Homo sapiens: one gene and its partners. The protein of the gene in region 1 interacts with the protein of each later gene in a pairwise test. Each region holds a gene or a part of one and is shown in the gene's direction. Other genes may lie near its edges. The genes, in order: COL6A2, COX6A2 and SLC38A3.

The links.
Region 2: the proteins of COL6A2 (region 1) and COX6A2 interact in a two-hybrid assay, tested with the Homo sapiens proteins (one large-scale study listed by BioGRID and IntAct).
Region 3: the proteins of COL6A2 (region 1) and SLC38A3 interact in a two-hybrid assay, tested with the Homo sapiens proteins (one large-scale study listed by BioGRID and IntAct).

What each region holds. Positions count from the first base shown.
Region 1 is NC_000021.9:46,122,112-46,125,611, forward strand, and holds part of COL6A2 (collagen alpha-2(VI) chain isoform 2C2 precursor), read left to right. Parts: coding exon 1-47; intron 48-384; coding exon 385-420; intron 421-763; coding exon 764-826; intron 827-2,539; coding exon 2,540-2,602; intron 2,603-2,773; coding exon 2,774-2,809; intron 2,810-3,154; coding exon 3,155-3,200; intron 3,201-3,353; coding exon 3,354-3,500. UniProt on the Homo sapiens protein: Collagen VI acts as a cell-binding protein.
Region 2 is NC_000016.10:31,427,189-31,429,827, reverse strand, and holds COX6A2 (cytochrome c oxidase subunit 6A2, mitochondrial precursor), read left to right. Parts: upstream 1-1,467; 5' UTR 1,468-1,502; coding exon 1,503-1,575; intron 1,576-1,676; coding exon 1,677-1,813; intron 1,814-1,970; coding exon 1,971-2,054; 3' UTR 2,055-2,097; downstream 2,098-2,639. UniProt on the Homo sapiens protein: Component of the cytochrome c oxidase, the last enzyme in the mitochondrial electron transport chain which drives oxidative phosphorylation.
Region 3 is NC_000003.12:50,208,156-50,211,882, forward strand, and holds part of SLC38A3 (sodium-coupled neutral amino acid transporter 3), read left to right. Parts: intron 1-3,727. UniProt on the Homo sapiens protein: Symporter that cotransports specific neutral amino acids and sodium ions, coupled to an H(+) antiporter activity.

The sequences.
Region 1 (3,500 bases):
ACCCCGGCAGGCCTGGATTCAGCTACCCAGGACCCCGAGGAGCACCCGTGAGTCACAGCCTGGGATGGCAGCTCCCAGGAGTGGGTGGACATTGTCCCAAGGGCCCTGAAGATTCCTAGTAGTTCCCTCAAGGCCTCCTCTGTGCAGAAGAAAGTGTGAGGTCCCTCCTGCGGGACAGAGTGGTGAGAAGGCTTCGGGTGACTCAGTGAAGGATAGGTCCAGCCCAGCATCAGGAAAAGAGCACAGCTCAGAACGCAGCACAGTGGCCTCACCCAGAGTGTGAATGAGCGAGGGAGGGAAACGGGGCTGCAGAAAGCTGCCCAGAGGGAGGAAGGAGCACTGGGATCTGAGGCTGAGTCACCCTGGCTTCTGTTTGCTTCACAGGGAGAAAAAGGCGAGCCCGGCCCACGCGGCCCCGAGGTATGTGTGGGTCCTGGCCACCTGTGCCCACCCAGGGTGGGGGTCTGCACGCCCAATTGCTGGGAACACAATGCCCACCGTCACTGACAGGACCACCCCTGTCTTGAGATGGTCCTGGCTCCCCAAGGCCCAGCCATGTCACCTATGCTGAGCTCTGGGGGAGCTGTCAGCCACTGGCTGGTCCCTTTTCAACCAAAGTTCAGGCTTTGCAAAAAAACCACATAGATGCTCCCGTTTAAAGGACCCCAAAATGCCAGATCGATTTTTCCACATAAAAATCTCACTGGTGTCCCTGGTAGAGACAGCTCCTCTGTCCCAGGCTAACATGTGTTCCCTGTCACAGGGAGGCCGAGGCGACTTTGGCTTGAAAGGAGAACCTGGGAGGAAAGGAGAGAAAGGAGAGCCTGTGAGTGTCACCGTCCCGAAGCCCACAGCAGCTGGGCAGAGGCAGGGAGGGGCCCTGAGGCTGAGCGTGTGCATCTATGAGTACAGGAGAACGCCAGGCAGCTTGGCCCCAGCCATGAGCACCACCCCCACCTTCCTAAAGGGAACGGCTGGCTCAGGGGCCCCCTCCCTCAACCCAGCCTCCCTTCCAGCGTCCCCTCCCCAGTGACCCCCCAACATCCCCCCCACAGCATCCCCCACAAGGGTCCCCTCCCTAGTGACCCCTCCACAACATCCCCCCAGAGTCCCCTCCCAGCATCCCCACTACAGCATCCCCCACCAGGGTCCCCTCCCCAGCGACCCCAACATAGCATCCCCTCCAGAGTCCCCTCCCCCAAAAGATGCCTCCACATAGCATCCCCCTCAGAGTTCCTACACACAGCATTCCCCAAGGGTTCCCTCCCCAATGTCCTCCCCACAGTTATCCCCCAGAAGGTGCTCTGTGCCTCCAAATCCCTAGCCTGGCCAAGGGTTTAACCAGGGCTGCAGGTTGGTCTGGAACTGAGCACAAAACAAGGGATGGATAACGATGGATGGATGGGCAAGTGGATGGGGGTGGGCAAATGGATGGATGGGAGGATGGGTGATGGATGGATGAGTGAATAGAAGAGTGGGTGGATAGAAGATGGATGAATGGATGGATTGCTGGATGAGTGGGTGGGTGGATGGATAAGTGGATACATGGGTGAATGAGTAGATGTATGGGTGAGTAGGTGGGTAGGTGGGTAGATGGATGGGTGGGTGGGCGAGTGTGTGGTTAGATGATGGATGGCTGAATGGATGAGTGGGGGGATGGATGGGTGAGTGGGTGTATGTATGGATGGGTTAGTGGGTGGGTGGATGAATGGATGGGTGCATAAAGGATGGATGGATGAATGAGTTAGTGGGTTGGCAGATGGATGGATGGGTGAGTCAGTGGATAGATGGATGGGTGGGTGGATAGAGGATGGATGGTTGGGTAGGTGATGGGTGGATGAGTGGATAGATGGGTATGTGAGTGAGTGGGGGGATGGGTAGGTGGGTGGATGGATGGTTAGGTGAATGAGTGGATGGACAGACGGACAGTGGGTGGATGGATGAGTGAACGGATGGACCGATGGATGAATGGGTGGGTGGGTAGAGGATGGACGGACAGGTGAGTGGGTGGGTGGATGGATAGATGGGTAAGTGAGTGGATAGATAGATGGGTGGGTGGACAGAGGATGGGTGGATGAATGGATGGGTTAGTGGGTGGCTGGGTGGATGGATGATGGATGGGTGACTGGGTGGATGGATGGATGGGTTAGTGGGTGGCTGGGTGGATAGATGGATGGGTGATTGGGCGAATGGGCGAATGGGTGGATGGGTGGGCGTGGAGTTGGTGGGTACATGATAATGGGGTGGAATACCCATGGATTGGAATGAGCTGTTTTGGCTGCTATTTCTGGGACACCCAGCTCTGCCAGGCCCCTACCCCTCTGGTGGGCCAGGCTCTGACGGTGGCCACTCATGGCCTTTCTAGCTCTGGTGCCAGCATAGGGAAGGAGGAGGCACAGCCTTGTCTTACTCCTTGCACCTGTTAGCCCCCCCCCCCGCCAAGGGAGGACCCGTGGTTGGGGACAGCACAGGGGGCCCTGCTGTGTGCAGGGACTGTCCCTGGGGCCACTGAAGCCCACCTGTTCTTGTTCCTTCTCAGGCGGATCCTGGTCCCCCTGGTGAGCCAGGCCCTCGGGGGCCAAGAGGAGTCCCAGGACCCGAGGTAGGTTGGTGGCCAGTCCCCATGCCCTCCCCCCAACCTGCCAGGCCAACACACACCCAAGCCTCGTGGTTCTGCCCACGGTGGACCCACGTATCAGTGGGCAGTGGCCTGGGAGAGACTCAGCCACCCAGCCTTGGCCCCAGAGTCTCAGCCTCATCCTTCCTTCCCCAGGGTGAGCCCGGCCCCCCTGGAGACCCCGGTCTCACGGTAGGTGTCACATGGGGCAGAACCAGTGTCCTTCTCCTGCCAAAACTAGACACCAAGAGCAGCAGGGGTGGGGGAAGGTCAGCTGGCACGGTCAGAGAGCAAGATCAGTGGAGGAGGTCAGAGGGCAAGGTCAGAGAGCAAGCTTGGTTGGGGAAGGTCACAGGGCAAGGTTGGTGGGGGGAGGAGGGTGGCAGCGAGGTTGGTAGGGACAGGACCCGCCAGCCTCCCCGCATGGCTGCCTCCACACGTGGGCTGGAATGTCCCGGGACCCCCAGGCCAGGACCTTGCTGTGGAAACTCTTCTGGGGCCCCGGGGGGACTACCCTGCCTGCCGTGTGCATTGCAGGAGTGTGACGTCATGACCTACGTGAGGGAGACCTGCGGGTGCTGCGGTGAGGCACTGCCCACGGCAGGGTCGGGGCCCATGCACCGGGTGGAGGGCGGGAGTGCAGCAGGGCTGGGTCATCGCTGGGTCCTGCATGTGCACGTGACCCTAGGGTCTGAGGTCTCCCCGGTACCCCCCGATGACCCTGCCACCCCCCCAGACTGTGAGAAGCGCTGTGGCGCCCTGGACGTGGTCTTCGTCATCGACAGCTCCGAGAGCATTGGGTACACCAACTTCACACTGGAGAAGAACTTCGTCATCAACGTGGTCAACAGGCTGGGTGCCATCGCTAAGGACCCCAAGTCCG
Region 2 (2,639 bases), on another chromosome or scaffold:
TCAGTTTATTACCAATGAGAAACAGGTATAGAGCCCCTTCTTGAAAATATATCTTCCTCGTTTTTTTTATATATTAAATTCAGATTATATGTCTATATAATTCATTCTTCTTTTGTATATTAAGTTCATATTAGTACATCAGCCCTTGATCAAAGCTAGAAGCTTCCTATTGGATTGTAATTCTGAAAAGGCATTGTTGTAGGGTTAACCAAAGTAACAAGGTTCAAGCATTCATTACATACATATTTTTAGAACACCTCCTTCATGCCAAGGTCCCTGCCCGTTGCTGAGGACAGAACAGGCAGATGTCATCCCTGCCTGGTCTTGTGGCTTTCTTGTGACCTGCTTTGATAGAGGGTTCACACCAGCCCTGTCTAGGCTTGCTTTCTCCAAGTAGTCATATTTTTCAGATTGAAATAATGCACTTTGCAGTAGACACCTGTCAGGCTTGTGGCTGCCTGGAACCTTTTGAATACTCATCCTAGACCTGGAGATTTTCCCTACAATTCCTGCCTCCCTAAGGCAGAATCCAGAGCTCAGTTTCCCATCCCCTCCTGCAGCTGGGGGACCTAGGGGTTGCCAGTTGGTGCAATCACATAATTCTTTCAGAAAAGAGCGACCCAGGATACAGGTTTCATGAAGAATCTGTTTTCAAGAGGGGATGAGGGTGGAAAATTCTGGTTTTCCAGGGCAGCCTTAATGAAGCTTTTGGCATCCAGGGTCCAGCAGTGTGAGCTGTGGGGGTGTCACTGCAGCTGGCCAACGGAATGACTTGTTTATGACTGTGCAGACTGTAGGCATCTCTGGCTATATCAGACATAGTAAGCTACCTAAGATTCTCAATTACTTATCTTCTAAAACTAGTAAGAGTGAGTTCTGTTCTTTGCAAAGAACTGTGACTAATACATATACTGAACTACTGTTACCTGCCAAAATCCAGGTTGACACATTCCTACCTTACATAAACTTCATAAAAATGATGTAAGGGCCGTGTAGTGGCTCATGCCTGTAATCCCAGCACTGTGGGAGGCTGAGGCGGGAGGATCACGTGAGCTCAAGAGTTCCACACCAGCCTGGACAATATAGTGAGATCCCCGTCTCCAGTATTTAAAAAATCTTTTAAGGTACGAATTATTATACATTTTACAGCTGAAAACACTGAGACTCAAAAAGACACTTAATTCATTCTACAAATATTTATTAAAGCCCAACTGTGTGCCAGCCACCAGGCATAGAATAGGGAACAAAATAGTTTCCCTGCAACTATATAAAAAGAATGGCATATTGTACTTAAATGCCTCCTTGCCAAAATAAGAGGCACAGGACAACAGCTGTCTGGAGATGACCTCAAGCCAGTCAGGCCCCATTTTAAATATAGAAACCCCTAAGAATAGCCGCCAGTGCTCCAGACTCAACAGGTGATTGGCCCAGAGAGGGGAGGTGACCCCAGGCCCCAGGAAAGGGAGCGAGGACAGCGCTGGTTCCCGGCTCCCCGCACCATCATGGCTTTGCCTCTGAGGCCCCTGACCCGGGGCTTGGCCAGCGCTGCCAAAGGAGGCCACGGAGGAGCAGGAGGTGAGTGGGGAACGGGCGGATCCGGGGGCTCCCCTACCCTGCCCACCTGTTCACAGGCCCGCCGCCCCAGGACCGCCGCGCTCACCCCGCTCCGTCCGCAGCTCGTACCTGGCGTCTGCTGACCTTCGTGCTGGCGCTGCCCAGCGTGGCCCTCTGCACCTTCAACTCCTATCTCCACTCGGGCCACCGCCCGCGCCCCGAGTTCCGTCCCTACCAACACCTCCGCATCCGCACCAAGGTACGCGGGACGGGCGCGCGGGCGGCACGGGGGTGCTGCGGGGGCGGGGGGGGGTGCTGCGGGGGCGGGGGGGGGTGCTGCGGGGGGGGGGTCGCGCGGGGCGCGGACTCCGGACTCACGGCGCTCACGCGCGCTCCCTCCCCCGCTCTCTCCACAGCCCTACCCCTGGGGGGACGGCAACCACACTCTGTTCCACAATAGCCACGTGAACCCTCTGCCCACGGGCTACGAACACCCCTGAGGCCCCGGACGCCCCCGGACACAATAAAGGTGTGAAGCTTCGAGTCTGCGGCTCTGTGGGGAGGGCGGGGCCACGGGGAGCGCGCCCAGAGGCGCCCGCTCCGCGCATGCGCCCAGCTTGGTAAGCGCTCCTGCTCCGCGCATGCGCCTAGCGCGGTGGGCGCTCCACGTGCTTTTCCCACGCCGCTGATACGGAGGTGCTCGAGGGAGCCTCCTCCACTCACAGGTAGGCGATCCCAGCTCCCTGTCTCTCACCTGGTAATAATGAGGCCTCCCTCTCACACACACCTATTAATAATTAGGGCTCTAGGCTGTAATGGGCTTCCGCGTACACCGAATCCTCACAGTAACGCTGGGAGCAGGGTATAAATTTAGTTCACCTTCTCCCGAGGAAGACCTGAGATTCTTGGGAATTAAATGACTTGTCCAAGTTCCGGCAGCTCGGCAGAGCCCCCATGGGAGCCCAGGGCTGCAGATCCTGAAGTCCCACTTCTTGCCTGACACCTGAGCTGCTGGTGTCTGTGAATCCCAGCTCTCTGGATTTCAGACGGAGGCTCCACAGTCCTGTGTGTGAGGCCTTGGGACC
Region 3 (3,727 bases), on another chromosome or scaffold:
CATCTTGGCAGTGCCCATTGGGCCTACTGCCCCCTCAGCTGGGCCCCCTGGCTCCCTCTCCCCTTCTCGCTCTTTCTGGGGCTCTCTTTTTCTTCAGCTTTCTCTCTTTTTTTTTTTTTTTTTTTGAGATAGGGTCTCGCTGTGTTACCCAGGCTGGAGTGCAGCGGCGTGATCTTGGTTCACTGTAGCCTCTGCCTCCCAGGTTCAAGCAGTTCTCCTGCCTCAGCCTCCCGAGTAGCTGGGATTACAGGCACCTGCCACCATGCCTGGATAATTTTTGTATTTTTAGTAGAGATGGGGTTTCACCATGTTGGCCAGGCTGGTCTCAAACTCCTGGGCTCAGGTGATCTGCCCGCCTCGGCCTCCCAAAGTGCTGGGATTACAGGCGTGAGCCACCATGCCCGGCCTTACAGCTGTCTCTTGCTGTCTTGTTGTCTGTCTCTTCCTCCATTTGGCTGTCTCTGACTGGGTGCTCACTCTGTTTCTCACCTCCCTGGTTGTTTCTGTCGCTGTCTGTCTCCTGTCTAAATGTCTGTCCGCTATCTGCATGTGGTTTTTGTCTGTGTGTTTTTCTGTCTGTGTCCCTCTGTGTGCATCTGCATTTCCCTGTCACCCTGGGCCGCTGCATCTCTGTCTGTCTGTCTCTGTGTGTGGATCAGTATGCATGGACGCATGGAGCTAATGACTGTGTTTTCTCTCCCTGCTCTGTCCCTGTCTATCTCTCTTCCCTCCCTCTGCCTTTTCTTCCTGATGTTGGATGTCTCCCCTCCTCCAGGCCGACCTTGACTTTAGCCCCCCATCGGACTCTCTGATGAGTCCTGAACTGCCCGAGGCCTGTGCTTCAGCTTGCTTTGGGGCCAGAAGTCCGGCTGTCTAAATATTTGGCCGCCTCCAGGGGATTCCGGGTCAGCAGGGAGGAGAATGGGCTGGCTGGCGCAGGGTCTCCCCTGCCCCTGGGGGGCCACAGTCACGTGATGTCCTGTCCTTTGCCTCAGCTGGGCCTCCGGCTGCACGTCCTTCTCAGCAGGCTGGCAATGGGTGAGGTGGGGGCTGCTGTTGCTCTAGCCCACTCGTGAACCAAGAGCTTCTGACTGCAACCTCTATGGGTGGCAGCCTGAGCAAGGAGGGTCCAGGGCTGGGTGGGAAGGGAGGCTGAGGTGCCTAAGGTTAGGCCCAGCTACAAGCATCTGTTAGAAAACGTACCTGGCCATGGCCGGGCGCAGTGGCTCAAGCCTGTAATCCCAGCACTTTGGGAGGCCAAGGTGGGTGGATCACGAGGTCAGGAGATCGAGACCATCCTGGCTAACATGGTGAAACCCCGTCTCTACTAAAAAATACAAAAAATTAGCTGGGCGTGGTGGCGGGCGCCTGTAGTCCCAGCTACTCGGGAAGCTGAGGCAGGAGAAAGGTGTGAACCCAGGAGGCGGAGGTTGCAGTGAGCCGAGATCACGCCACTGCACTCCAGCCTGGGTGACAGAGCAAGACTCCGTCTCAAAAAAAAAAAACAAGAAAAAAAAAGAAAATGTACCCGGCCACAGGAAAGTCTACCTTCCGGCCCCAGCTGGGTCTCTCAGATCCTCCTAGACACCTCCGGATGCCCAGAACACAGAGCCACAGACCCTAGATCCCAAGGCCAGGGAGCTGGGGGCTGAGGATTAACATGGCCGGTAGTTCAGTTCTCTGGGCCATCTGCCTTCCCCTGGATATGCCCCCGCCTGCATGTCACTTCTTCAGTATTAGCCCAGTGTTGGCCACACACTGGCCACTTGCACTGTTGTGTTGTTGATGAGGAGGACATGAAAACATGGGTCTAGAGGAGGGTAAGAGGTGTCTTTTCCCTGTTCTAACACCCTCCTCCCACCTGCTTTGTCCCTAGACCCCTGACCCCAGCAATCAGCTACCACCAATTCCTATGGCTGTGCCTTGAGAACATGCAGTCCAAATGTCTCCATTGGATCTGGTTTCCCCCCTTACTAACACCTTCTCCTAGTAGGGGGCATCTTCCCTCTGAAGCCTGGAGGAGCAGGTGGACAGAGGGGTAGCTGTCCAGATGGGTACCAGACTTAGGAGGGGGGCACCCTGTCTCAGCCAAGGAGGGGAGTGGTAAAAATGAGCTGAGCTGGAACTGGGGGCAGCCCTCACCCCTGAGCCCCCAGGGATAATCACGATGGACCCTCAAGCCAGGCCAGCTGTCTCTCTCCTGAGATCTTGGCGGAGGTCAGGTAGCCTGGGCCTCAGCAATAAGCTCCAGAGGGTCTGTGCCTCCACTGGTGCAAGTCGTCACCAAGGTAAAAAGAGTGCGAAGGCCTCCCTGTCACCAGCTCACTACTGCCGACCCAGACCCACTTATGTTCCTGAGCATGGGGAAGGAAAGCAAGGCTCAGAGTCCTGGGGACTCCAAGGACCTTGATCCCTGGGCAGAGAGCTGTGCTTCCTGTAGCTGCTTGCATCAGCCGCCCTGAAGTGGCCTGGGTTCCTGGGGCTCAAAATCTTTAATTAGCCAAACTCAACACCTGCCGAGGTGTGCCTGATGAATTCTCACCAGGTGATGTTCGCGTGGGCGGGCGTTACCTGCTGCGCCATCCCTGTGGCTCCTGGCCCCTCCTGGCCCTTATCTCCCAGGAAAACAAACAGGTCCCAGGGCAATGGCCTGGGCCATTGATTTACTGCCCGGGTTCACACTACATCCATGACAGATGCCATTCTGATGACCTGCCCAAGGCCACCGTGATCTCCCCACCCTAGCTCCTGGCCACTCTCTGGGCACCCATGGACTGTTCTGGGGATGAAGGCTTTGGGGAGGCTCCTCACTCATCCCCAGCTTTGACCAAGCCTCACGGGACCCCTAGAGGACAGGGATACACTGAGGTCCTGAGCTGGGGAGTACCCTGCCCCTGGCCACACAGTGAGGCAGGGCCAAGCCCAGCCCTAGAGGGTCTACTCTGGGCTTTCACCACAGGGGATCAGGCTCTGCTGGCAGCCTTTCTTATGCAGGAGCCCTTCCCTGAGTTTACCCCGATTCCGATTCCCGGATACAAAGGAGCCTGGGAGGCCACAGGCCTGAGGGGTAGGAGCTGTCAAAAATGGGCTGGCAGCCTCAGGGAATGGCTGGGGGCTCCATGCCAGGCCAGTGCTAATCCTCACCCTGGCCCCCAGCCCCCAGCCCTCCTCCCTGCCCTGGACCAAAGTCCAGACTCCTAGACCTGGCCTTTACAGCTGTATCAGGTTTGTCTGTTGCCACAGAACCTTCCTTCAACGCTTACAGCTTGCCTCGTACTGCACCTCAGGGCCTCTGCCTATGCTGTGCTCTCTGCCTGGTACACTCTTTCCTGTTTGACACCCCAGGGTGCCTACTGGAATTTTAGTACTGGCTTCGCACCTCCTCCAGGAAGTCTTCCTTGATGCCCCCATCCTTTTTTTTTTTTTTTTTTTTTTTTTTTCTTTTTTTTTGAGATGGAGTTTGGCTCTTGTTGCCCAGGCTGGAGTGCAATGGCGCAATCTCAGCTCACTGCAACCTCCACCTCCTGGGTTCAAGCAATTCTCCTGCCTCAGCCTCCTGCGTAGCTGGGATTACAGGCATGCGCCACCAGCCCGGCTAATTTTGTATTTTTAGTAGAGATGGGGTTTTTCCATGTTGGTCAGGCTAGTCTCAAACTCCTGACCTCAGGTGATCCTGCTCTCCTCGGCCTCCCAAAGTGCTGGTATTACAGGCGTGAGCCACTGCGCC